Regions from separate parts of the Homo sapiens genome. Here region 2 is linked to region 1. The links come from fine-mapping of genetic effects on gene expression. A gene starts in region 1. The other region holds a variant in brackets. All regions are shown on one strand. Distances are between the middles of the regions.

Region 1 (8,323 bases):
GCCATACAGTACAGGATAGCTTGGAAGGCACAACAGGGAGCCAGGCACGGTGGCTCACGCCTGTAATGTCAGCACTTTGGGAGGCCGAGGCGGATGATCACTTGAGGCCAGGAGTTCAAGACAAGCCTGGCCAACATGGTGAAACCCTGTCTCTACTAACAATACAAAAATTAGCTGGGTGTGGGAGCGGGCGCCTGTAATCTCAGCTACTGCAGAGGCTGAGGCACAAGAATTACCTGAACCCAGGAGGCGGAGGTTGCAGTGAGCTGAGGTCGCGCCACTGCACTCCAGCTTGGGCCACAGAGCAAGACTCCATCTCGAAAAAAAAAAAAAAAAAGGAGGGGAAAGGGGAAGGGAGGAGAAGACTAGGTATGAAGCTGCTGCCACAATCAGAGGCTGGAACTGGGCCAGTGGCCAAAGGGAGGGAGTGAAGTGTAGATGGGATGCTGTGTCCGTGTGGATGCAGTGCATACCTGTCTCCGGCAGCTCTTGAGGGTGATGCCTGTTTTGGTGCTGATGTCATCCAGGTCTTTCTTGGTGCCTTTGGACAGCTTCTTGCCCAGCACCTCCCGAACAAAGGCCTCATCAAAGGCATAGTACCTTGTGGAGTCAGAGAACACCATTGACCCTCCATAAAAGACAGGAAAGGGAGTCTGGCGGGGCCTAGCAGGGCCTAGGTCTGACCCCTTCCACTCTCAACTTTCTGATGGCTGGGTAAATCCCATCCCTCCCTGGGCCTGTTTCAGCCGGCAAAATGGGTATACAGTCAGACTGGTTGATGTCTCCACCATCCCAGAGGGTGAGCACCTCTCGATGAGTAGTGCCTGCCGGGAGGGCGGAATCTGGAAGATGAGCTGGTGCAGTAGCTTGGGCGGCGCATGCAGCAGCCGCTCGAGCATGTGGAAGGTGCGGTAATGGTCCATGGTGTCGCTCTGCAGCACCGCTGCCGTGGCGCCAGTCTGCTCCAGGATTCCCGAGCGCACCCGCAGGGCCACCGCGTCGGTCACTGGAAAGCGGACGCTAGCATCAGGCCCCGCCCCGCCGACGCCAGAGGCCCTTAAGGGTTTCCATCCCAGACCCCTATAACACCTCTTATTCCCAGGCGCTCGCCCACTTCCCTAAAGGATGCCCAAGTCTTAGCCCCGCCCCCTCTCCCATTCAACACAACCGCTCCGCCGACTGGCTTCCCCACACGCCCCTCACGGACCCGAGTAACCATCGAGCCAGAGGCGATACACGTCCTCGTCGATAAGGGTCGTGTTCCCCACGAAGATGTCCAGCTCACTGGTCATGGCGACGCCCGGGGCCGCAGCGCCCCGAGCAGGAGCGAGCACTGCTCGGGACTGGCGCGCCGCCTTCAGGCCACTTCCGGGAGCGCCGAGATTCCGCTCGCGGCATCGGGACCCAGCTTATGACCACTTCCGGGACACAGCCAGTCGGGGAGGGGACGGGGCGGGAGCGGCGAGGGAAGAGAGGGGGAGGCCTGCGCGGAGGAGCACCGCTTCCTCCCGCCGGGAGGGGGAGTCCCGGGCTCCTGCGTCCTGTCTCCCTCCCCGGCCGTCTGCAGGAGCACGAAGGGAGTGCCTCCTCTTCGTCTCCTCGGTCCCCGTAACTTCTCCCCTCACTTCCTCCTGGCTTTTCTCCCACCTTCTCTGCCCTCTTCGGGACCTCCTAAGTTTGACCTGTATCCTAAACTTAGGGGTTTCACAGGGCTCTATCCTAAATCTCCGCAAAAATGGGGTATGACCCGACTTCCTCGGGCTCTTGCTGGAGACTGGTTTGTCCATCCTGCGCATGAGCACCTCTCCTGGGTTTGGGGCACCTGCTCCCACCTTGGTTTTAATCCCACCCCCAGCCCCACGAGCTACTGACGTCTCTAATTCTGCCCCTCCGAGCTCTGCCTGGAAGTCCACATCCGGAGGGGCCGCCTATCGGCCAAGTCTATCCACACTCTTCCCGTAAGCCCCTCAAAAGCTCAACATATTCTAGACAGACCTCTGCCTCTCCCCATTTGTTTCTTTCCTGCGTCCCTATCTCAGTGACAGCCCTAACATCCACCAGTTCTCATACGAGAAACCTGGGCGTTCTTCCAGACTCCTCTCTCCCCACATTCAGTTCGGCTGATTTGCCTCCCGAATATTTCTAGTATCTGTTTGTCCTCTCCACCCCCACTGATGCTGCCCCAGCCGTCTTTCTGCTTAGCTCTCCTTGCTCTTGCTCTTTGACACCGTTACTAATCTCCCTGTTTATGTCCCCTCCCCGCAGGGTCCGGCCCACACAGATCAGCCCAATCTTTTTAAATACATTTTTTTTTTCGAGACAGCGTCTCGCTCTGTCGCCCAGGCTGGAGTGCAGTGGCGCGATCTCGGCTCACTGCAACCTCCGCCTCCCGGGTTCAAGCAGTTCTCTGCCTCAGCCTCCCGAGTAGCTGAGATTACAGGCTCCTCCCACCACGCCCGGCTAATTTTTGTATTTTTAGTAGAAACGGGGTTTCACCATCTTGGCCAGTTAAAGGCATATTTTAAAATGTTACTCCCTTGCTTAACATCCTTACAAATGTTACTCTCTTGCTTAACATCCTTAGTGGCCTTTGGAAATGCTCCAACCTGGTACTGGAAGTTCTTAAGAATCTGGCTTTTACCTACCTTTGAAGCCTCGCTCTCTCTCTCTTAGCATTTTCTCGACACATCTGCTTTTCAAAAACCAAGCTATCCTCATTGTTCCTAAAGCAGCTAGGCTCTTTCGGGCACCAGTGTCTTTCACTATGTTATTCTCTCTCCCTGAAATAGCTCTTTACTTGGCAAAGTCCTATGGATCTACCAGAGCCTCTTGGATAGCATCTCTTTTGGGAACCCTCTTAAGGACCCTCAGACCATACTCCTCCCGGATTTATTTCTTGCTTAACACAGCTTGACTTCCCGGACAGACTGCGACCTCCTTGAGGATGGAATCGGTATTTTGGTTAAATTTATTTCTGCATGGGCCTTGCACATAAAAAACGTTTATTGAACAAACGAATCCTGTATGTTCCTCCCCCCAGGCAGGAAACGCTCCCTGGGAGGGAGGGTAGTCTATTGGTGAGCTAGGACGTTTGGACTCAGGGTTCCGAGGAACCAGGAGCGATCCTTAGTGGGCCGAGACTTCCGAATTTGATCAAAGGTAAAGAGGGACTGGAGAGCGGTCCATCTGACTTCTGTGGGGGATGGGCAGGAGTCAGGGGCGGACGCCTGAATCTTGTTTCTCAGAAGAGCCGAGAGGCCTAGGCTCAAGCTTGGGGCGATCCGGTACTTGGAGGTTCGAAGCTCCTAGTTTCGGGTTGAGACCGATGTGGAGGGCGATGACGCGCGGGTTCCTTGACATCGAGGATCAGTAACACCCGGAGTGGGTGGGGAACGAGGGGGGCGGCCCCTGAGCTCAGGCCCCGCCCCTTTCCGGGGACGTTTCACCGGATTGGCTGTCCTTCCATAACGACATGCGGCCCCGCCCCGGCGCGCGCCCCGCCGCGTGCCCAGCCCGGGTAGCTGCTGCAGCCTACGCTGCCTCGGCCACTGCCTGCCGCGTGCGGAGCCGGAGCCCGAGCCTGAGTGGCGCCGGGCCCGACGTGGGGCTCCTGGGCCGCGGCGGCGGGCGGGCGATGCTCCAGAGGCCTGACCAGCCATGGAGGCCGAGGCAGGCGGCCTGGAGGAGCTGACGGACGAGGAGATGGCGGCGCTAGGCAAGGAAGAGCTAGTGCGGCGCCTGCGGCGGGAGGAGGCGGCGCGCCTGGCGGCACTGGTGCAGCGCGGCCGCCTCATGCAGGAGGTGAATCGGCAGCTGCAGGGCCACCTGGGCGAGATCCGCGAGCTCAAGCAGCTCAACCGGCGTCTGCAGGCAGAGAACCGTGAGCTGCGCGACCTCTGCTGCTTCCTGGACTCGGAGCGCCAGCGCGGGCGGCGCGCCGCACGCCAGTGGCAGCTCTTCGGGACCCAAGCATCCCGGGCCGTGCGCGAGGACCTGGGCGGCTGTTGGCAGAAGCTGGCCGAGCTGGAGGGCCGCCAGGAGGAGCTGCTGCGGGAGAACCTAGCGCTTAAGGAGCTCTGCCTGGCGCTGGGCGAAGAATGGGGCCCCCGCGGCGGCCCCAGCGGCGCCGGGGGATCAGGAGCCGGGCCAGCACCCGAGCTTGCCTTGCCCCCGTGCGGGCCCCGCGACCTAGGCGATGGAAGCTCCAGCACTGGCAGCGTGGGCAGTCCGGATCAGTTGCCCCTGGCCTGTTCCCCCGATGATTGAAGGCACTGCTTCCTCCACGCCGACGCCCGCCCGGATTGCTCCCCGAGCCCCGGGACCGCTGTGGACCTCGGGACCTGGACGCCGTCCTGGCTGCGCAGGAGGGGCCGCTGGCATGGACTAAGAAATCCTGACACCAAGAAGGGCCCCTCGCTCTTGCTGGCAGGGCAGCAGGGGGACTGAAGGCTGGAGCGGAGGGACTTGCTGGGGGTTGGATTGGGGGTAATAAACCCGGACGGAAGCGGAGCCCACGGCCTGGGCAGCGTCTGTTTGGTACTCGCCGGGGTTGGGGCGAGGGTGGGGTGCTGATACAGGGTACAATTCCCATCCAGAAGGACTGCAGAACTAATGATTCCCCCATTACTTCGAGCCTGGGGTGGGATGCGGGGCAGTGGTAAACCAGACTTCCCCCATCGGGCGCCGGGACCGGCCTTAATCCAGCCCCTGAAGTGGCTCCAGCTCCCTTCCCGGCTCCTTCCTGTCCAAGACAATGGGGCAGGAAGCAGGTGCTGGGGGCCTAGAACCACTCGGCCGCCTCCTCTGAGGCTGGAAGGGGGCATAACAGCGCCCCTCCGTGGCACACGCAGCAGCACTGTGGGCCCCCACGGGGAGAGGGGCGGTAAGCCTCTTCGCTTTTACCCCAGAGGACTGTCTCCCCTCAGTCCCGGAGATGAGGCCGAGCGGATGTAGCCCCACTTGTCAGATAAGACAAAGTCCAAAAATATCAAAGAATTTGTCCAAGGTCATGCAGTGAGTCTGTAGAGCTAAGGCTGGGACCTAGGGCTCCAAATACTCTCCCATTGGCCTCTGGGTCCAGTGAGGCACTCAGGCCACAGCTTCAAGCCTTTTATTCCATTTTGGTAGGTTTGTATAAAAATACTCTCTTTAGGAAAATAAATAGCAGCTGCCCTCGCTGTGGAGGCTTGGATTCCCTGGAGCTGAAGGCTTCTCAAAGCTGAGATCCGCAGATCAGCTCATCACAGAAGCCAAGGGCGCCTCCTGAGCTGTGCGGTTCAGGAGGGGGCGGCAGAATGGCCTGGTCCAATCACCTGCTGCTGCTGGCAGTGGGGCTGGTGAGTTAGTGTTCTAGGTGGGTAAAGTGGCACCTTCTGTCAGGAGATAGGGTTGGGTGGATCACAGGAAGAGGGTGATGGAGAGTGTGGCAGTGATCTGGAAGGGGTTAGGGCTCCAGAGGACCTCTAAGGATCTACAAAGTCTCTGGGCTGCCAGGATTCCTCTGGCACAAATGGGAAATATTTTGTCTCTGATTTAGTGCAAATTGTGCTAGAGAGGCCAGCTCAAGAGAAACAGTGGGCAGCTTTGGTGGCCCCAAGCTGGCTCTACTGTGAAGCACAATATGGTCAGTCTCATTAGAGGGATGGAGAAGAAGTTGCTGGAGTTGGATGTGGGATACTGTCCAGGCCAGCTGGACCGGTGGGGGAAGGGGAGGAGACATTGGCTAGGGTGGCATCTGCAGGGAGTAGGGCTCAGGCGCCTCACAAAGCGAGGAGGGTTGGAGAGCCAAGGGGGTCAGAGGATGGGTCTCCGCTGCTGCTGCTACTCTTGCGATGAGCTGAGGCACAAGGCTCAGGAGTGCTGGGGTAGGTGAAGACCAGGCTGGGGGTGAAAGGAGTTAGGGAGGGTGTGGTCATGAGTGTGGGGGTGTGCAGTGCCTCAGGTTCAAGCACAGGCCCTGGGGAAAGGGAGATACAAGGTACAGGGCGGCAGGGGGCTGGTGGGCTGCTGGTGCCACTGGTACTGCCTGTGTCCCCCTCCTTGGCTCCTTCCGGGATTTTGCAGATGGGTCGGTGGGCTTCCAGCACCAGCTCTAGGCGCTCCTTCTGCTTCTGCAGCTCCTCAATCTCTCGCTGCAGCCCAGATTTCTCATCTTCCAGTTTGTCAGTCTCCTGTAGAAGATCAGGAGAGGAGTCAGAAAGGTGAGGGCTGAATACCCCAGAGCCGCAGACGTTTGGACTCAGGGTTCTGAGGAGCTGGGGTTGGGCGGGGGGAGAGGGGGGGCAGTGGAGAGTCCCCAGCAAGTCTGGACTACAACTCCCATAAGCCCCTGGGAGAAAATGGGCACAACTCCCATCAGGCCCAGACGTTTTAGGAGATTGCTGGCACCAGGCAGTGACTCCGGCCTGTAATCCCAGCACTTTGGGAGGCTGAGGCGGGCGGATCACTTGAGACCAGGAGTTTGAGACCAGCCTGGCTAACTTGGCGAAACCCCGTCTCTACTAAAAATACAAAAATTAGTCGGGTAGGGAGGCAGGCGCCTGTAGCCCCAGGTACTCAGCAGGCTGAGGCATAAGAATTGCTGGAGCCTGGGAGACAGATGTCACAGTGAGCCATGAGCCGAGATCTCATCACTGCACTCCAGCCTGGGTGACAGAGCGAGACTCTGTCTCAAAAAAAAAAGGAGATTGCTGGCTGAGCTTCAGCTCTGCTGTGAGTGAGACATGCTGCAGCCAGTTTCTAATCAATTTTTCCTCATCATTTTCCCAGAAGGACTGCCCCTCAGACAAGGAGCTAGGATGGTGAGGAGGGGGCTACATATACTGGGGCTCTGGGGGCTCTGGGAGACAGGGTCCCTCTGAGCTCGGTGGACCAGGGCTGGTGCTCACCGCCTGCAGGAAGTCGGTCAGTTCCTTCCTCCGGTTCCTGCACTTGGCCGCAGCCAGCTTGTTCCGCTCGCGCCTTACTCGGCGGCGCTCCTCTTCCTCCGGGCTGATCTGGGGGTGAGACCCGCAGTGAGGAGGACCCTGGGCTACTGGCTGCCTGGAACTCGCCCCTCATGGTGGCCCAGTGGTAGGACCCTGGCAGAGGTCATGGCAGGGCCCCCTCAGCCGGTGATTTAGGGATCACTGCACCCAACCAGTTCCCTGCACTGAGGCGCTGTCTGCTTTGATTGGTAAAATTTCCTCCTCGCACCTAGCTTTAGTGCACATTCCTCTCCCATAATGCCCTCCCCCTCCGCAAACCCTAACCCTCCTCATCTCCCAGGACTCAACTAAGATGCTCCTGCCTCCAGGAAGCCGTCTTATTCCCCAGCCAGAAGTGACCTTTCCTTCTCAGCACCCTCTTTGCAGGACCCTCATCCTTCTGGATCTGTGGACAACCAAGTCTCCTCTTCCATGAGCTGTAAGCACTAGGAGGGGCTAATGAGTGCTGCTGATTAAGTTGCAATTTATTGGAAAACTACTATGTGCCAGCCAAGTACTTTACGTAGATTCTTGTTTTTCACTGAGAACATGCAAAGATTTTATTTTATTTTATTTTATTTTTTTTAGACAGAGTCTCACTCTTTCCCAGGCTGGAGTGCATTGGCCCAATCTTGGCTCACTGCAACCTCCACCTACTGGGTTCAAGTGATTCTCGTGCCTCAGCCTCCCAAGTAGCTGGGATTACAGGCATGTACCACCACACCTGGCTAATTTTTGTATTTTTAGTAGAGACGAGGTTTCACCATGTTGGCCAGGCTGGTCTTGAACTCTTAACCTCAGGTGATCCACCCTCCTCAGCCTCCCAAAGTGCTGGGATTACAGGCATGAGCCACTGTGCTCGGCCTTTTTTTTTCTTTTTTTTTTTTGTGTAGTGACGGGGTCTCACTGTGTTGCCCAGGCTGGTCTGGAACTCATGGGCTCAAGGGATCCTCCTGCACTGGCCTCCTAGAATGTTTGGATTACCAGGGGGAGTCACCACAGCTGGCCTCTTTTTTAAAAAAACATAGATTCTTTTTTTTTTTTTTTTTTGAGACGGAGTCTCACTCTGTTGCCCAGGCTGGAGTGCAGTGGTGCCATCTCGGCTCACTGCAAGCTCCGCCTCCGGGGTTCACGCCATTCTCCTGCCTCAGCCTCCCGAGTAGCTGCGACTACAGGTGCCTTCCACCACGCCCAGCTAATTTTTTGTATTTTTTAGTAGAGACACGGTTTCATCATGTTAGCCAGGATGGTCTCGATCTCCTGACCTCATGATCCACCTTCCTTGGCCTCCCAAAGTGCTGGGATTACAGGCGTGAGCCACCATGCCTGGCCTTAAACTAGATTCTTAACGCAACTTT
Region 2 (8,323 bases), 82 kb before region 1:
TGACCAACATGGAGAAACCTCATCTCTACTAAAAATACAAAAAATTAGCTGGGCGTGGTGGCATATGCCTGTAATCCCAGCTATTTGGGAGGCTAAGGCAGGAGAATTGCCTTAACCCGGGAGGCAGAGGTTGCGGTGAGCCGAGATCGCACCATTGCGCTCCAGCCTGGGCAATGAGAGCGAAACTCCGTCTCAAGAAAGAAAGAAAAGAAAGAGAGAGAGAAAGGACGAAGGAAGGAAGGAAGGAAGGAGGGAGGGAGGGAGGGAGGCAGGCAGGCAGGCAGGCGTGGTGGCTCACGCCTGTAATCCCAGCACTTTGGGAGGCAGAGGTGGGCAGATCACTTGAGCCCAGGAGTTCGAGACCAGCCTGGGCAACATGGCAAAACCCTGTCTCTACTAAAAAAAAAAAAACACAAAAAATTAGCCGGGCATGGTGGTGCGCACCTCTAATCCCAGCTACTCAGGAGGCTAAGGCATGAGAATTGCTTGAACCCAAGAGGTGCATGTTGCAGTGAGCCAAGATTGCACCACTGCACTCCACCTGGGCAACAGAGCAAAAAATAAAAATATAAAAAATAAAATATGTACCATGGGAAGCTGGCAAACAGTATGGATTATTCATAAAACAGCTTCAAATGATAACAATTATATGAAAAAAATTCAACTTCATTCATAATCCAAGGAATAAAAATGAAAATTAGGTATCTGTTACCTATAAGCAAGTCTATCAAGGCCCAGTGTGGTGGCTCACGCTTGTAATCCTAGCACTTTGGGAGGCTGAGGCGGGCGGATTGCTTGAGGCCAGGAGTTCAAGACCAACCTGGCCAACATGGTGAGACCTCCATCTCTAAAAAAAAAAAAAAAAAAAAAAAAGAGGCTGGGTGTGGTGGCTTGTGCCTGTAATCCCAGCACTTTGGGAGGCTGAGGTGGGCAGATCACCAGGTCAGGAGTTTAAGACCAGCCTGACCAATGTGGTGAAACCCCGTCTCTACTAAAAATACAAAAATTAGCCAGGTGTGGTGGCACGTGCCTACAATCCCAACTACTCAGGAGGCTGAGGCAGGAGACTAGCTTGAACCTGGGAGGCAGAGGTTGCAATGAGCCGAGATCATGCCATTGCACTCCAGCCTGGGCGACAGAGCAAGACTCTAGCTCAAAAAAAAAAAAAAAAAAAAAGCCTATCATAAAACTAGTTATAATATTGAAAAAGTAGAAACAATCTAAATATTTAACCTGAGTACATTAAAAATTATAATTAAGTAAGCTGTGTGTGGTGGCTCACACTTGTAATCCCAGCACTCTGGGAGGGCAAGGCAGGCGGATTACTTGAGGTCAGGAGTTCAAGATCAGCCTGGCCAACATGGTGAAACCCCGTCTCTACCAAAAAATACAAAAAAAATTAGCCGGGCGTGGTAGCGTGCTCCTGTAGTCCCAGCTACTTGGGAAACTGAGGCACAAGAATTGCTTGAACCTGGGAGACGGAGATTGCAGTGAGCTGAGATCACACCACTGTACCCTGTAGCCTGGACAACAGAGTGAGACCCTGTCTCAAAAAAAGAAAAACTATAATGAAATATGTGTATCTCTTAAATATGATGGCAAAAAATATTTCAGGAAAATGCTTACAATATATTAAATTTAAAAGCAGGTTCCAAAACAGTATTATGGGGTAGGCACCCTTGTCATTTTTATAAACGTAAGTCAGTCCATATGTCTGTAGTAAAAATCATGGAAGTAAAAATCTTAAATTCTTGTTCAATGGCAGAATTATGACTTTTATTTTCTTTTTTCTATATTTCGTACTTTTTTCTACAATATTCCCATATTGCTTTTGTAGTGAAATCTTCTTGATGATTTTGAAAGAGTCCTTCAGGAAGGCAATGTTGGAATAATTGGCTGCAAAAGGATGTTCTTCATTGAACAGTGAAAATTCTTGCCAATTTAGGCCGGCCGCGGTGGCTCACGCCTGTAATCCCAGCACTTTGGGAGGCCGAAGCGGGTGGATCACTTGAGGTCAGGAGTTTGAGACCAGCCTGGCCAACATGGCGAAACCCCATCTCTACTAAAAATACAAAAAAATTAGCAGGGCTTGCTGGCGGGCGCCTGTAATCCCAGCTACTCAGGAGGCTGAGGCAGGAGAATCGCTTGAACCTGGGAGGCAGAGGTTGCAGTGAGCCGAGATTGCGCCACCGCCCTCCAGCCTGGGTGACAGAGTGAGACCATGTCTCAAAAAAAAAAAAAAAAAAAAAACATTGCCCATTTGATGGTTATAGAAATGGGCTGGGATGGCAATGGGTGGGAGGAAGGCCGAGGGAATAAACTGCTCCAGATCCAGGAATCCTGATTTTTGATGTTACCATGAAATCTAAATGTGTAGAAAGCACAAAGAATCTGGAGTCCCCGGACACACAGTTTGAATCCTACAGCTGCTTTGAGGAAGATGCCTTAGCTTTCTGAGACTGACTGTTCATAAAGTGGAAGTAAGAGCAATGTAGGATGATGGTGAAGATTAAGATAATGAGTTGCTTTGTGAAGCAGAAAGCTCTAAACAAATGCTGGATGCAGCAGATAATAACATCCATGTCTGGTTTAGCTTCGGTAAGATGGGCGGTGGCTGCTGTAGTTGAATTTGCCCTGACTGCTGAGAACGCTGGGCACGTTGCAGCTGAGAGACAATTTTCCCATAGGGTACAGGCAAACTCTTGGATTTTCCGGTCCACAGTAATACAGAATATAAAAATAAACTAGCTGGGCACGGCGGCTCATGCCTGTAATCCCAGCAACTCGGGAGGCTGAGGCAGGAGGATCACATGAGCTCAGGAGTTTCAGACCAACATTGTGAGATCCCGTTTCTGCAAAATATTTAAAAATTAGCCAGATACAGTGGCAGGGCCTATAGTCCCAGCTACTTGGGAGGCTGAGGTGGGAGGATCACTCGAGCCCAGGAGTTTGAGGTTATAGTGAGCTATGATGACACCACAGCATTCCAGCCTGTGTGAACAGAACGAGACTCTGTCCCAGAATTTTTTTTTTTTTTTTTTTTTTTTTTTTTTGTGAGAGAGTCCTACACTGTTGCCCAGGCTGGAGTGCAGTGGCAGGATCTCGGTTCACTGCAACCTCTGCCTCCCAGGTTCAAGCAACTCTCCTGCCTCAGCCTCCCGAGTAGCTGGGATTACAGGCATGCGCAACCACGCCCGGGTAATTTTTTTTGTATTTTTTAGAGATGGGGTTTCACCATATTGGCCAGGCTGGTCTTGAACTCCTGACCTTGTGATCCGCCCACCTCAGCCTCTCAAAGTGCTGGGATTACAGGCGTGAGCCACTGCACCCGGCCTAAAAAAATTTATTTTAATTTAAAAAATTAAGTAAAAATAAACTTATTCTGAGTTCAGAGGAAGGTGTTTGGTGACCTGCTGACTACCCTTTCAGGAGTGAATATACGGCCCCTGATGAGAACCCCTGGTTAGTCGTGTGCTGAGCACTGGGAAGGAGAGAAAACGGCACAAAATGGAGACACCTGTGACCTCCTTCACCTATACCTGCTTACTGATGTTTTGGCGAAATGCTTGGGGGCTGAGTTGGGTGGACCGAGGATGCCAGAGCTTGTCATCTAAGGAGGCTGGGAGAGGCTGGGTGGTGGTTCCGGTTAGATGGGTCTCCACCCTGCACGAGATAGATGGGCAGGCTCATGAATCATGAGCCCCTCGTGTTCATAACTGATTAGCTAGTTTGTTGCGGCGCCACTCTTGACTTTCCCACAATATGGGCCCTGACATCCTCAGAGGGTACCACGTTCTTCAGTCCACCCAGATGAAATGGATTTACAAATCCAATGATGAGCTTTCTGAGTACTGACTGTGTTTGGAGACTCGTTCTTGACTGTGCCACTCCAAGTCCTTCAAATGAAAGACAATGTTCACCCTTTTTTTCCTTCCTTTTCTGCTCCTTCTAGGATACCCCTCGCCACGTTTTCTGTTTTACCTCCTTTTCTTTCAAGGAATCATTTTAATTGCTCTTCCTCTCCTTGTTCCTCAGTTTCCCTCACCTTCTCCTCATGTCCTCCTCTCTCTGCCTCTGGATCTAGCCAGCGTCTTCCTCTGTGCTCTTCATGTCACAGGCACCTGCCACCAGGAGCCACCGATGCCAGGCTGTCCTGAGCTAACGCACAGGGAGGACTGTATGACGAGGGAGTGCAGACGGCAAGACAGCCACTCAACAGCAGAATGGGGGCTGCCCTTGCCGCCCAGGCCACCCAGGCTGTGGCTCCTGAGCTGCGTGGTCCTCCCTTCATCACTCGCCCCCTCTCTGAATTCTCCCACAGCCTTTTACAATCTTTTCAAACAGCTTTTCTCCCCATACTCCTGCCAGCCCTCCTCCCCTGCCCTCCCTCCGAAGGAGCCCTTGGATTTATCCACACCTGCTGGTGCCAACATGCCCCAGACTGAACGCGCCACTCCAGGTGTGGTTTTGCCTGGTGAATGGAGAGGCACGGGGCGGCTCTGTGTCCAGAGGTGGGAGAGGCCGTCCAGGGCCAGCCTTGCACCTGGGTTCAGCCAGCGCAGCTGCCCCCAACCATGCCAGGCCGCTCTGTTGATCCCCGCTATCGAGCGGAGCGTCAGGACAGGAGCTTTTGCTGTCTCCTTCCTGCCTCAGAACCCCACCCACTATGT[T/C]TTTTCTCATCTGAATCTCAGTTCGAAATCTCCAGCCCAAGGGGTTTCCCAACACCTCCTAGTTTTGAATCAACCTGCTGATGCCAGCATTCCCAGATGAGGAATAGAGATGTGAGGTGGGACCTGGCCTGGCACTGCGTGGTGAAGACACTCCTGTACCCGCAACGGTCATCCAACTGGTGGCATCTGGACAAACAAACCCAGTCCCCTCCTTAGCTTCCATGAAGGAAAAAAACAAGTGGGTACAAGCTGAGGACACGGCTGGGAGTGGAACTGTAGGAACAAGGACTGGCCAGATGGCGACACCAAGGCGGCCATGCTCCTACCCTGAAGCCGCAGCTGCAGGTCTGGTCTGCACCAGGTGGTCCTCTCCGGCAACCAAAGAATTCTCTGCCCCCAACAGTGCCTCGGTGGAAACCATGCCCAGTCTCTCTCGGGGTCACCCCACAGGAATATGCCTTTTAGTCCCCCACCTATGGCTTCATGGGGAAGACTTCTGGCAGCAGAGGCCCGGGCATGGCAGCAGGAAACAGAGAACTGGGTCAGTCTTCTTCTTTGTCCTACTGTGGCCTCGGGGTCTGGTCATTCTCCGAATGGGGCTGAAGGACAGCAATAGGGCCAGAACGGCAATCTGGGTCTGTGCATCATGTTCTAGCCAACAAAACATCCCACCTTGGATTTTATTTTTTAAATCTATTCAAAGCTTCGGTTCCGCATCCAATTCCCAGAGAGGCCATCCCCTTGTCCAAATGGGCAGAGTGGCATGCCAGCACTGAGCCACCTCTGGAGGGGGCTGGCCACCTCTGGATGGGTCGGCACCCTCTCACAGGGGTGAACACTGCAGACTGGAACTGAGCTTCTCTCTGCTCCTCTGATTTGAGGAGAGAGCACACCTGATACCACAGCAAGCACTTGTTCTTGGCACTTGGTGTCACTCTTGCTTCATCTTGGCTCAGCTTAAACCCTTCAACTGAATGGTGGCGATCACCACAGAGGAGAACTCTCTTCTTCCCCCTCCGTGCCACATGCACACACATGCACACTCACACACACGCACACAATTGTACACACATGCACACTCACATACGTGCACAATTATACACACACGCAATCACACACACATGCACTCACATGCACACACGTAGACACACGCACAATTGCACACACATGCACACGTGCACTCACGCGTACACACTCGCACACACATGCACACTCGCACACACGTTGAGACGTGCACTCACGTATACACTCCCACACACGTTCAGACGTGCACTCACGTGCACACTCGCAAACACGCACACTCACACATGCACACTCACACACATGCACACTCACATGCCCGCCAGGGCAGGAGCCTGGCTCTCCAGGAGGCAGGGCAAGTGTCCAGACAGAAGGATGAGAGCCATGTTGTGGCACAGGAGGGCCCCATGGTGGATGATGGGGAGGAAGGGCCATGTGGACAGGCAGGGGTGGGGTTGGGAGGGGCTCCTCATCTTTCCTGAGCAGGGCCCGGGTGGAACCAAGTCTCCTGGAATTGTTCATTGTTGACTTCACCAACATATTCTTAAAACTTGAAATTGCTCAGAAGATAATCTAACAGCACAAACATGCACACATAAACAGTAAGAGTCCCTTGGCATCAAACTGGCAAACTGTGGTGGCAGAAACACAGGAAGGATCCACTCCCGGTGTGAGGCTTGCTGTCCCTCCCTCTTCAATGCGCTGGCTACCAAGCCTTTGCCAATCCCCAGTGCAGCAGTTCACAGACTTTTTACTGCTAAGAACGGCTTTTGGCAACCCCAAAAATGTGATGTGCCCTTTCGGTGGGTAGAATTAATTGGCGTAATAGAACGTGTCCTCCTCTCAGGCCTCAGCACTGCTGCTGCATCTTCGCAGCCTCTCTCAGCCTCGGTTCTGCCACCTTTCCTCACTCATACAACAACAGGCTCCTCCTATCGAGGAGGTAATGAGCTCCCACTGGACTTTGGGGTCCTCTAGAGTCACCTGCAAACTCCACTCCTCCCTCCCAACGTCGTCTCTAGAAGATTCCTTTGTCCTCGAGGCTCTCCTTTCAGTGAAGGACCCTCATGAGGACACAGTGCCTCCTCTGGGACACACAGCCATAATACTCTTGTCATAAGAAATCCAACTCCTTGACCGGGCTTGGTGGCTCACGCCTGTAATCCCAGCACTTTGGGAGGCCAAGGCAGGTGGATCACCTGAGGTCAAGAGTTCGAGACCAGCCTGACCAACATGGTGAAACCCCATCTCTACTAAAAATACAAAAATTAGCTGGGCGTGGTGGTGCGTGCCTGTAATCCCAGCTACTCGGGCGGCTGAGGCAGAAGAATCACTTGAACCCGGGAGGTGGAGGTTGCAGTGAGCAGAGATCATACCACTGCCCTCCAGCCTGGGCGACAGAGCAAGACTCTGTCGAAAAAGAAAAAGAAAAAAGAAAAGAAAAGAAAGAAATCCAACTCCTCTGCTACCCATGAGGGAAGGTGGCTCAGGATGAAAGGGAAGTTTGACAATCCCTAAATATCACAGGCTTAAGAAGAGCCATTACCCAAGAAGTCGTGTGGAAAGAGCTGCCGGCCTCAGCCACAGCTGTCCTCTACCCACACTGCCGCCTGCCGCAGGCCACAGCACCGTCAGCCGAAAAAGCCCACTGATATCTGGGTTACAGGGCTTGAGGCTGCCTTGATTTCTGGCTAACAGCTGGGCCGTCCTCGGCAAGAGCTCTCCTGGGAACGGGTTGGGGAGATTCCCCGTGCCCTGTCATTCTGATGTCTCCCTGCACAAGGGAGCGGGTTAACCATGTCCTTGCCACCTCATCTTCGAAAACAACTCATAAAAGCGCATCAGAGGAAACAGTCTTTTCATCCCACCTATCATTAGTTCCCAGAACAGGGGCTGGAAGTAGGCAGCCTCCCTGGGAGTTTGCGGGATGAGGCAACACCGGCGCCTGAGCTACCATTTAGCCTATTTCTAGAGATAAGCCTGTTGATGTCAAAGTAAGGAATGACCAACTCCAGCCAACAGCGCCCTGTGGGACTGGGTCTGTGACATCTCCTTTCTCCCAGGCACCATCCCCAGGGCAGGAGACAGGAACCCTAGATCGTGGGGGTTTGTGAACTGACCTAGGTAAATAATAACAAGTTGGGCTGCACTCTCCTTGAGGTAATTCAAAGTACTTTATCACCATTACCTCACTGATCTTAACTAACATCCAAGGAAGGAAGGAAAGAAAAAAGGCAGAAGCTTTCTCATTTCCTAAAACAAAAGTGAATGGGGGCTGGGTGCGGTGGCTCACACCTGCGATCCCAGCACTTTGGGAGGCCAAGGCAGGTGGATCAGCTGACGTCAGGAGTTCGACACCAGCCTGACCAATATGATGAAATCCCGTCTCTGCTAAAAATACGAAAACTTAGTCGGGTGTGGTGGTGGGCACATGTAATTCCAGCTACCCAGGAGGCTGAGACAGGAGAATCGCTTGAACCTGGGAAGCAGAGGTTGCATTGAGCCAAGATCTCACCACTGCACTCCAGCCTGGGCAACAGAGCAAGACTCCATCTCAAAAAAAAAAAAAAAAAAAAAAAAGTGAATGGGGAGTGGGAGCTTTTAGGTGAACCAGCTCCTATTCACCTATGGTC

Evidence for each region.
Region 2: its variant is fine-mapped to the expression of CCDC85B in whole blood (INTERVAL, PIP above 0.99).

What each region holds. Positions count from the first base shown.
Region 1 is chr11:65,887,127-65,895,449 of GRCh38, forward strand. CCDC85B (coiled-coil domain containing 85B) reads left to right here and starts at 3,547. Exons shown (of 1, transcript NM_006848.3): 1 at 3,547-4,509. The coding sequence starts at 3,658. The coding sequence ends at 4,266. FIBP (FGF1 intracellular binding protein) reads right to left here and starts at 1,345. Exons shown (of 10, transcript NM_004214.5): 1 at 1,208-1,345; 2 at 808-1,006; 3 at 474-600. The coding sequence starts at 1,292. FOSL1 (FOS like 1, AP-1 transcription factor subunit) reads right to left here. Exons shown (of 4, transcript NM_005438.5): 3 at 6,888-6,995; 4 at 4,923-6,170. The coding sequence ends at 5,760. RefSeq lists enhancers at 1,246-1,315, 4,958-5,007, 5,048-5,207, 6,492-6,996, 7,099-7,208 and silencers at 1,436-1,575, 3,338-3,817.
Region 2 is chr11:65,804,662-65,812,984 of GRCh38, forward strand. The region is part of intron 3 of LOC124902693; the gene reads right to left. Among named protein-coding and RNA genes, the nearest start is that of OVOL1-AS1, 18 kb to the left of the region's middle. The variant T/C (reference allele first, on the strand shown) is at 4,671.